2 separate regions of the Homo sapiens genome follow, and region 2 is linked to region 1. The links come from fine-mapping of genetic effects on gene expression. Tissue or cell type: minor salivary gland. Region 1 holds a variant in brackets; the other region holds the start of a gene. All regions are shown on one strand. Distances are between the middles of the regions.

Region 1 (5,372 bases):
AAGAATATATTAAGTCAGGGAGAAAAATGTCATTCAGATGATTCAACAACTTCCCTGTGGTTTCATGTATCAACTTGTCATCAGTAAAGGAAGAGAATACGAAATGCAACCCCGTAGCCTCTACAGTGCTCCTGAAATTGGAAGGGGAGCCAGCGGGGACCACCTTCCTACATGAGTTGCCTGGTTTTGCTTTTTGGTTCTGTCATATTCCTTTGCTGGGATTGGAGTCCTACATTAAGGAGCTTTATTTAGCCCCCTTATTATCTCCAGCCTCCCCACTCCACGAGAGCAATGAGCTTTCTTCCCGTGCAAACACAACCTCAAGATAGGTCTCCTACGCCCTCTTCCTTCCAGATGCTCTCCTACAAGGACCTCCCACTGATAAATTTGGTAGCAGCCGAGGTTCACCACCAGGCTCAAATCAACAGCAGGGGAGCAGTGCAGGGGAAGAACACGGGTTTTGGAAGTAGACAAGGCTGGAATTAGAATTTTGTTTGCATCACTCGCTAGCTCAGTTTCCGCATTTGTAAAGTGGAAATAAGCACATGTGTGTCATAGTCTCGTAATGAGTCTCATAAATTTGAGTCTCTGATTAGATTAGATCATGCTTAGTCTCACACCAATTCCTTCTGCCCCTATGTGTGCACTTGCTATCTCTACCACCTCACTTCTTTTTTATTTACTAAAAGTGGGATTAGGAGCACGATGCACAGCACTACACAAAGCTCTGTGAACGCACACATTGATCTGAGATATTGGTCGACACACACATGTGAAGCTCCCACATGAAATATCAAAAATAACCCCCTTAACTGTTAATCAGAAAACACAAGCAGGTCTTAATTAGAGGGTGATGATTTGCTTTATGGACTCAAAAGTCTCAGAGAGGGTAGATGGCATTTATGTCTTATTGTAGATTTCTAGACCCTTAGATAAAATCTGCAAGAAGCAAGGTGGAGGCACATCTTTGCATTTTCATAGCTCAAAACAATTGAGCTTAAATACAGTCCATTTTTCCACTTAGCACCTTTATGCAACTCCATGAATTCTGGCAAATTCTCCAGACAAGATGATCATAACAGAGAAGAAACCACATTTGTCCTTTTTTAGCATGTGTGCTGGCAGAACCAGACATGTTGGAGAAACACAGTCCAAGGGGGTGAGCATTGTTAGGGAGAGAGGGGATCAAAGGGCTGAGATGGCCCATGCATGCCTTGGATGACAGAGAAAGCTGTTTTATGATTGGAAGTTAAAAAGCCCCATAAGATTCCAGGTGCCTGGAAACAGGAGATGACAGAATCCTGCGGGAGGGAGGCCATTGCTGCTGGCGTCTGTGCCTCCACAGATGCTTTAAAGAGGTAGGAGATAAGACCAGAGTTGTATCTGGAGCACATAACTTCCCATTTAACTCTACTTCAGGACTGGAGTAGCTGAGTGGGGTCATGTGTCATCCGAATTAAAGGTTATTGAGCTGGAGCCAGTGGAGGGAGTGCCAAAGGAGAATATGACCCATGCTCCCCCCAGCCCTTCTCCAAGCAGGTCTTCAAGGTTTGCAGAGTGAAGAGAAGAGCTGCTTCACCTGGGAGGATGTGGGAGCTGGACAACTCCACTCATCAAGATTAATAGAACCTCCTTATCCCCAATACAGTATCTTACAGAAGATAGCAATCTATTTCCCTCTCACGTGAAAGCAACCTGCAGGTGGGCAGCTCAGGTTAATATGGCATGTGGAGAGTTTCAGGGATCCGTGGACTTTGTGGCTTTCATGTTTGCTATTTCTAGGGTGTGGAGCTTGACTTCCTAGTCCAAGAAGGCTGCAGGACCTCCAGCCCTCTCTTCTGCATTCCATGTATTCCAAGCACGAGGAAGAGGCAAGGAAGAGGAGGTCAGGAGCCAGCAAAGCTGCCTTCTAAGACAGCTTCATGAAAGCAGCCTCATGTTTTCCACTTTTATCTCAATGACCGGAACATAGTCACACAGATACACCAAGCTCCAGTGAGAATGGGGAGTGGACTGTTCTCTTCTAGACAGCCAGGCACTGTCAAGGAACTGTCTCCAAGCTGCTGACCAACAACAGTGAGAGATCTATTGATGAAACTCCTTAGGCAGCTCTAGGAGTCTTTGACAACTCAGAGTCCTCAGTTTCCATATACACACATGGAGTTATACATAGCAAATCTTATATTTGTTGTTGATGTATGTTAATGAAAGAAAAAGACTTAAAATATTGCCACACAATTACTAAATAGTATTTGGGAGGAAGCTTCTCTTTGTGGAGTTATTCCACTGAATGGATGAGGAAACAAGAGAACGGAGCATTAACATTTGGCAAGCCTTCTTAAAATAATGGATCCAGGCATTGAACACAGGTCTGTTAACATAACAAAATGAAAGACAATCAAGCAT[C/T]GTATGCCTCCTTGTAAGACAACACCTCACGTAGATAGATTTCCTGTTTAAAAAAATCGAGTTTCATGAACCCCACTGCTCCAGCTTCCAATCCACAAAAAAACACAGAAGACAGAGAAAAATATTACACAACGCCCCACAAGGACATGATTAGCAAAATCGAAACTAGGAAACAGGACAAAAGAAACTGGTTTCTTCCACAAATGTTGAAAAAAAAAAATGGCTGGGAACTCCAGAGATGAAAACAAAAGATAGTACAGCCAGTCAGCAGGTGTGGAGCTGTTCAGCGCCTGGTTCAAACCGACAAGTAGAACCTAAAATCAAAGAGACTTGGTTTGACCCCATATGACTTTTAGAAGACAACCGGAAATTTGAATACTGAGTGGATTTTTGTTGATATTAAGGAATTACTATTTTAGGATAATGGCATCATGGTTATATTAAAGAAAGTGTCCTTATCTGTTAGAGAAACATACTGAAATATTTATGAATAAAATATGATTTCTAGGATTTGCTTCAAGATAATAGAGGAGTGGGAAAGTGGATAGAGGTATAGATGAAGTCAGATTGGCTGTGAACTGACAGTCTTAAAGCTAAGTGACTCACTATTCTCTCTCGCTCTCTCTGAAGCTGGGAGTTCATTATACTACTATATTCACTTGTGTAAGTTAAAATATTCCATAATAGGCTGGGTGCAGCGGCTCACGTCTGTAATCTCAGCACTTTGGGAAGCCAACATGGAAGGATTGCTTGAGGTCAGGGGTTTGAGACCAGTCTGGGCAACACAATGAGGCCTTGTCTCTACAAAAAATTTAAAAATTAGCTGGGCCTGGTAGTGCACCTGTAGTCCCACCTACTCTGGAGGGTGAGGTGGGAGGATCACCTGATCCTTGGTGGTGGAGGCTACAGTGAGTCTTAATTGTGCCACTGCATTCTAGTCAGGGTGACTGAGCAAGGCCCTATCTCAAATAAAATAAAATAAATAAAATAAAATATTCCACAATAAATAAAAATATAACAAAGTAGAATGATTTATAATCCTTTGGGCATATACCCAGTAATGGGATTGCTAGGTAAAATGGTATTTCTGGTTCTAGATCCTTGAGGAATCGCCAAACTGTCTTCCACAATGGTTGAACTAATTTACACTCCCACCAGTAGTGTAAAAGTGTTCCTATTTCTCCACAGCCTCACCAGCATCTGTTGTTTCCTGACTTTTTAATAATCTCCATTCTAACCAGCACGAGATGGTATCTCATTGTGGTATGCACACGTATGTTTATTGGAGCACTATTTACAATAGCAAAGACTTGGAACCAACCCAAATGCCCATCAATGATAGACTGGAGAAAGAAAATATGGTACATATACACCATGGAATACTATGCAGCCGTAAAAAAGAATGAGTTAATGTCCTTTGCAGGGATATGGATGAAGCTGGAAGCCATCATTCTCAGCAAACTATCACAAGGACAGAAAACCAAACACCGCATGTTCTCACTCATAAGTAAGAGTTGAACAATGAGAACACATGGACACAGAGAGGGAACGTCACACACTGGGGCCTGTCGGCGGGTGGGGGGCAAGGGGAGGGAGAGCATTAGGACAAATACTAAATACAGGCAGGGCTTGAAACCTAGATGACAGGTTGATGGGTGCAGCAAATCATCATGGCACATGTATACCTATGTAACAAACATGCGCATTCTGCACATGTATCCCAGAACTTAAAGTAAAATGAAAAAATAAACTCAAGAATTAAAAAAAAAAAAAAAAAACAAAGTGCGAGACAAAAACTATGAGTTCTTCCAAACGAGAAGCTCTAAGCCAACTTTCTCAGGTATTAGGTAAGGCTCTAGCCAAATCTGTAGCCACCCTAGGTAGCCCCTGATGGACTACCCCGGGCCGCCGCTGTGGACTTGAGAGGTCAAGCTGAAGACTTGTGGTTATTGCCGCTATTCAAGGAGAGAAGAGCCTGGGTCCAGCCAGGTTCATTGGCAAGTGTTTCTTCCACATTCACAGGAAAAACTGGGCAAGATAAGATGTTCCAAATACAAGCCCTGAGAAGTGATCGAGCTATAGAAATAATCTCAGAAAAATGATCTCACTCATACTGGGAGAGTGGCAGGGAAGGAGGCAGGGGCCACATACAAAAGAGACTATAGTTTCTTCTAACAGGCAGTCAACAGATAATGTCTAAAACTAATACTATATCATGATGTAATGCTGAAAACACCTTTTTAAAATGGAAATGGACCAGAGAGAGCTGCAACAATCCAGCATGCTTTCTCCTGGGAAAGCAAACATGGAGTCGTGGGGCCGTATGAGAGAGGAAAAGGGATGCTTCTTAAATTATAAGCACTGGATACTCTTAATTATGTGTGTATTTCACACATATTTAAACTTTAAGATGAAGGTTAAAAAAAAAAAAAACAAGCAATAGCAATAACAACAAAAACCAGAATGTGGCCCAACCTGTAATCAGGGGAAAATTCCTGGACTGAACATCCTCTTATTATTAATAAAGTGGCTAAAAACAAATGAATTAAATATTTAACTGAAGAAGCTAAGAAAAAATAAGAAATTAATGAATAAAATAGGTGAAATGGAAAACAAATTAGTTGTATAGAAAAAAATTAAGGAATAAAAAACAGAATTGATAAAGTAAAGAACCATAGCTTTGAATAGATTAAGATAGATAAATCTCTTGGCAAACTTGAGCGAGAGCAAGAGTGAGAACAAGAGAGAGAGAAAAACTAAATTGTTCATGATAGAAATAAGACAAAATACTTAGTGATATGGCAGAGATTTATAAAACTTAGAGAATGCCATGTATACCCTCATACCAAGAGGTATGAAGGTATGAATGAATCCTTATCTGGATGAAAGGAATAATTACCAGAGTTAAATAAAGAAGTAGAAAATCTGGATAATAATTATTTAAAAATGAGAAGGATGTCAAAAAT
Region 2 (5,372 bases), 50 kb after region 1:
TGTATTGCACATCGTTTGAGTTCACAAATGTGAGGTTTGATGGAGGTTTCTGTCTTGCAGAGAGACTATTGGTGAAGGCCGGAGTCTATTTTAAGCAACTCCAAATCCACTGGGGTGTGAGGCGGGCCCCGGGTCCTGTCTTTCCTCTGCAGGGATGCCGCCCAGCACTGTGGCCTTCCTGGGGGTGGGCCCTGGGGATGGCTCATTTGTTAACCCAGGGGAGGCTCTTGAATTTGCAAAGCAGTTATCTGTCCTCTTATTTGTAAATGGGTAGCAAAGCCAACTCAAATACACAGATGTATATTTAGGGAGGGCTCTAAACAAAAGTTTTCTTCTGAGGGCTGAATCAACTACTTTACCACAAATTAGTTACACAAGAGGCTACTTCACTGGAGGAGCTTCCCTTCGCTGGAAAACCAAAACAAAACAAAACCCTTTAAGTACATTTTTCCTTTCAGTGTATCACAGCATCCTGAATTTCAGGGTAAACACTTTTTTATGTATTTCTCTTTTGCTTTTATAAAAAAAAAAAAAGAAGAAGAAGAAAGAAAAACACAACCAAGAAAAGCACCACATCTTAGCTCCGGGCGCCCCTGTGCCCTTCCCTCCAGCCCTGTTCACACGCAGGTGGGCGACTGGGCAGGGATCTCATATTTCCCGTGGTGAGTTTTCTGGGGATGCTGGGCTTTTTTGTAAATCCCACCGCTGGTGATCACGCTGGCCGGTTTTCTCCGGCTCTTCTTCTTTAACCTACGGCTGCACACCTGCTGCCAGGACTGCAGAGTCTTGGAGGTCCAAATCCACATCCCGCTGGTGATCCCCACCACCAGCAGCATAAAGATCTTCACCATGAAGATCTCCACGGCGGGGATGGAGGCGGCCATCAGGCAGTCCAGCGTTTTAGTCTGGTTGTTCATTTTGCACTTGTGCTGCGCCGCCAGGATCTTCCAGTAATCCATGTTGAGGCGTTCGTAAAAGTAGCAGGCGATCACACAGGTGGCCGGCACGGTGTACAGCACAGAGAAGAGCCCGATACGCACCATGAGCTTCTCCAGCTTGTCCGTGTTCTCGCCGCCCGTCTTCATCACCCTCCGGATGTGGAACAGGGCCACGAAGCCCGAGAGGATGAAGGACGTGCCGATGACCAGGTAGCAGGCCAGGGGAATGAGCACGAAGCCGGTGAGCGCGTTGACGTCCATGCTGCCCACGTAGCAGACCCCGGTGAGCTCGTCCCCCGCCACCCTGCGCATGACCAGGATCAGGATGGTCTTCACCGCCGGGATGGCCCAGGCTGCCAGGTGGAAGTAGCTGCTGTTGGCTTCGATGGCCTCGTGGCCCCACTTCTTGCCGGCGGCCAGGAACCAGGTGAGCGTGAGGACCACCCACCACAGCGAGCTGGCCATGCCGAAGTAGTAGAGGACCAGGAAGACCAGCGTGCAGCCGGTGCTCTCCAGTCCCTCCTGGATGACATAGAGCTGGCCGCTGTCCCGGTCGCAGGCGATGCTCTCGGCGCCGGCGAAGAGGCGGATGAGGTAGCCCACGGAGTAGACGCAGTAGCACATGGAGAGGAAGATGATGGGGCGCTCGGGGTAGCGGAAGCGGGCCGGGTCGATGAGGAAGGTGAGCACGGTGAAGGCGCTGGAGAAGAAGCACAGCACCGCCCAGATGGCCAGCCAGACCACTGCGAAGCGCTTGTCCTCGCGGCTCCAGTACACGTCCACGCCGGGCGTGCAGAGCGGCGCGCACGACGCGCTCTTCTCCACGTGGTGGAACTTGCCCGGGTTGTCGCAGCCGCCGCGCCCGGGGCCCCCGTCCTTCAGCGGGTGCTCCTGCGCGCTGTGGGGCCGCTGCGGCCGGAACAGCGGCGGGAACAGGCCCGAGCCCCGGGTGGGCTCGTCCGAGCCGTTGTTGGGCGCCTCCATGCACAGGTAGTTGGGGTCGTTCTTGTTGGGGAGTTTCCGGCAGTCCAGGGAGTCGGGCCACTTGAAGTTGAACTGCTCCATAATCGGGGAGCACTTGAGCCGGGCCTGCTCGCACATGACCCGGCAGGCGGGGATGGGGGTAGAGACCTGCTCGGTGCACATCGGCGCGTACAGCGAGCACAGGAAGAAGCGGAGGTGGCCGTGGCAGCCGTACTCCACCAGCGGCGCGAACTCGTGCAACTGGATGGCTGCCTCGCGCTGGTTCTCGTGGCCCATCAGGTTGGGCATACGAGTCATGTTGTAGCCGATGTCCTTGCACATCGGGATCTCGATGGGCTGGCATTTGCCGTCGCCCGGGCGCTCCATGTCCATGGAGCTGATGGCGGCGCACGAGCCCATCACCTGCAGGACCAGCCACAGGCGGGGGCCCGGGCGCTGCATGCTGGCGTTGGACGTGTCCTCGCGGGGAGCTCCGCGCCCCTCAGCGCCGCCGCTCCCGGGCACGGGCTGCTGCTGGCCCCGGCTCTCCACCCCTGCTCGGGCCCCCGCCCATGCCCGCCCGGCCTGGCCCGAGCGCTGCGCACAGCGCCCCCGGCTCGGCTCTCCGCGCCCGGCGTCCGCCGAGTTGGGGGCCGCGGCGGAGAGCAGCAAAGTTTGCAAACAATACCGGGAAGCGAGGGAAGCCCCCGGAGCTCCCGGCGCAGCGGCCCGGCGCGAGCTCCAACTCACGGCCGCGGCAAACTTCGGCCTCTTCTTGGAGCGCCCAGGTGGCGCGTCTGGAGCGGGCTGGCGGCGCGGGCACACCGAGGCCGGCCCAGCTCGCGGCGCCCCCACAGCCCGGGCGGCTCCTCCCTCCCTGCGCCGGCCTCGGCCGGGACCAGCCGGCAGCTGTTTCGAGGTTTGCGTCCCGGGATGAGAAGACTCGCAAAAAGGCAAAGGGGGGCAGAAAAGCCGAGCGCTGACAGGCCCCGCCCCCGGGCCGCGCGCCCCGCCCCGCCGCTGCTTTGCATGAGAAAGCGCAGCGGCCCGGGGCAGCCTCCTCCCCGCCGCCCCGCCGCGGGCTCCCGGGCCCCGCGGGGGCCGATCCCCCCCGGCCTGCAGCCCAGCCTGCGGGGGGCGCAGCGCCTAGTCCCGCCCGCGTCGCCCGCCAGCCCCGGGACAGCCCGCCTGGCGCGCGGGGCTCTGCGCGCTGCGACCCTCCCCGGCAGTCCCGCCCGCCTCTCCTCGCCCTCTCTCTGCCTGGCCTCCAACTTTGCCTCTCGCTATCCTCTCCGCCGGCGCCCCCTTTCCCGGCGGTCCCCGGGATGGTCCCCGGCACCCCGAGGACGCCGAGGTTACGGGAAGTTCGGGGACTGGCGGGAGAAGGGGTTTGGGGGTGGTCCGCGGCGAGGGGCGCGGGGTGCATCTTCTCTTCCTTTTATGGTGAGTCCCGGGCGGAGGGCGCTTTCAAAGGGAGGTGGGATTTGCGTTTTATAGCCTGGGCCATAAAGTAGGCCCTTGCTTGTAAACCTGCCCGCATCTTCCTGAGGCTGGGGAGGTGCTACCAGCCCCGGGCTCCGGGCTCCGAGGAGGGATTTTCTTTGAAATTTCAAAGAGACGAGCTAAGGGGAGGGGGAGGGGCTCGAGAATCCGGATTTTAGGGCCGCTCATCCGAGGTCTCCTCTAAGAAGGCGGGAAGGGGGAGGGGCGGGAAGCGTCCCGGGACTTTGAACACCGCCTCCCACCCCGCGGGAAGTGCGGGCTTGGTTTGTACCGCGGTGACCCCCGCCCCCTCCGAAGCCGCAGAGCCGGGGCCTCGCGCCAGCAGGGCTGGAGATGCCTTCTTGGCGGCTGAGTTTATTTATTATAGGAAGTCATTCGCTCGTGGGGTATTTATGTGATTTGGCGAGTGATGTGCCCGGCCAGCGCCCTCCTTGGCTGCAGCCCCGCAGGAGGACCCGGAGTAGGGTGGGATGGAGTGGGTCGTGGGAGGAGCGCGTCAGCGCCTGCCCGGGGACCCCCAGCTCCCGCGAGGACACGGAGGCGCGCACGCCGCTCGGTTTTCCTGGAAAGTGGAGAAGGAGCGTCCTGGGCAGGTCCTCTGAGCTCATCCCCCCTCGGATTGGGGCGGGTCTGTGACGGGGTCACTTAGGACACGACGTCCCCCCGCCATTCCCTTCCCCCGCCCAGGGCGTTCGCGGTGGGCGCCCACCGCCAAGCCCCACTGTTCCCAAGGATGCGCCAGGTGCTTCCCGTAGCGTCCTGGGTTGACCCTTAAAAAAACAGCACCCCTAGGAGGTGGCCGGCCCTCTCCTCCCAGGGTCTCTCCGGGTCACGATCTTCCAAAGTTCGGAAACTCGCAGGATCGCGTGTGCAATCTCCCGCTACCTCCCGGGGGGCCGGGGAGAGGTCAGAGGAGCGAGTCCCGCGTCCACCGGCCTCGCTTGCCCCCTGCCCGTTTGAGGATAGTTCCAGGGAGCAGGGTGGAGTGTGCGGACATCTTTGGAGGCAGTGCTGGGGCTTCCCGCGTTGGCGGCGCTCCACCCGGCGTGGGGGGCGGCTGCACGGGCCCCCGCGGTGGGGACGCTGCGCACGGGGCAAGGTCTCCCTAGGAAGCGCCCGGGAAGGAGATGGGGCCCGCCAGGAACCCCCCTCACTGACCAGCTTTCTGCACGCCGTGCAGGAGGGGGCCACTTCCTCGGAGAGTATTGGCTTTTAATTAAAACAAGCCCTACAATTTTTACATCGGTAAGAAACTTGGGGAAATCTCACCTTTCCACTCATTCATTCATCCGTTCAACAGACATTTGAGCGCCCAGAATCCCAGAATTAATAGGCAGGTTCAGGCACCCACCCCTGGGTCGCTGTCCCTGGGTGTCCTGGGTCTCACTAGGAGGTGCTGGAGGAAGTCGGGGTGAGGGAGAAAGTGAAAAAGAAGGTAGAAACTCCGGGCAGTTAGAACACCACCTTCAACTGTGTTATTTCCCAAGTGAAAAGTTGCATGATTTTATTTTTGAAAGACTGCCATTTTTATTATAGTGTTTTTTTTTTTGTTGTTGTTGTTTTTTGTCTAGTGAGTAATTTTTCAGGACCTTTAAATTAAAATTAATTCAGCGGAAATCACTTGGCTTTTCTAGAATTTTCCTGGCAAAGGTCCTTCCTGGGCCCTATTTTCCTTCTTTTCCTTTTTGTGTCTCTCCCTCAGCAACTATTAGAAATATTTAGTGCAAGAGTGAGAGCCAAACGCCGGGAGCTGGGTGTGAGCTATTTGAGAAAGTGCCTCCTAATTGATCTTTTCTGTGCTGTTTTAATTCAGCCACGTTCAGGCCCATTATTTTAGCTATAACCACTTCAGATTGCCTTTTTCTCTCGTTTTTTATAAAAATGTCTGCAGAAGTGCTTCGCCCTGTCCAGCTGAGATGGAAACCAACAAATAGACTTTATTATAGAGAAATGAGGGTTCTGAGAAAT

What was found. PIP is the estimated chance that this variant, and not a neighbour inherited with it, causes the effect. A credible set is the group of variants that fine-mapping cannot tell apart.
Region 2: FZD10 starts here. The variant in region 1 is the best candidate, but not a certain one, in a credible set for the expression of FZD10 in minor salivary gland (GTEx, PIP 0.60).

What each region holds. Positions count from the first base shown.
Region 1 is chr12:130,209,886-130,215,257 of GRCh38, reverse strand. No RefSeq gene overlaps it. Among named protein-coding and RNA genes, the nearest start is that of FZD10, 50 kb to the right of the region's middle. The variant C/T (reference allele first, on the strand shown) is at 2,407.
Region 2 is chr12:130,159,934-130,165,305 of GRCh38, reverse strand. It overlaps FZD10 (frizzled class receptor 10), which reads right to left and starts at 2,842. Exons shown (of 1, transcript NM_007197.4): 1 at 1-2,842. The coding sequence starts at 2,363. The coding sequence ends at 618. It overlaps FZD10-AS1 (FZD10 antisense RNA 1), which reads left to right and starts at 3,628. Exons shown (of 4, transcript NR_033834.1): 1 at 3,628-4,649. RefSeq lists enhancers at 16-561, 647-1,642, 3,229-3,795, 3,796-4,362.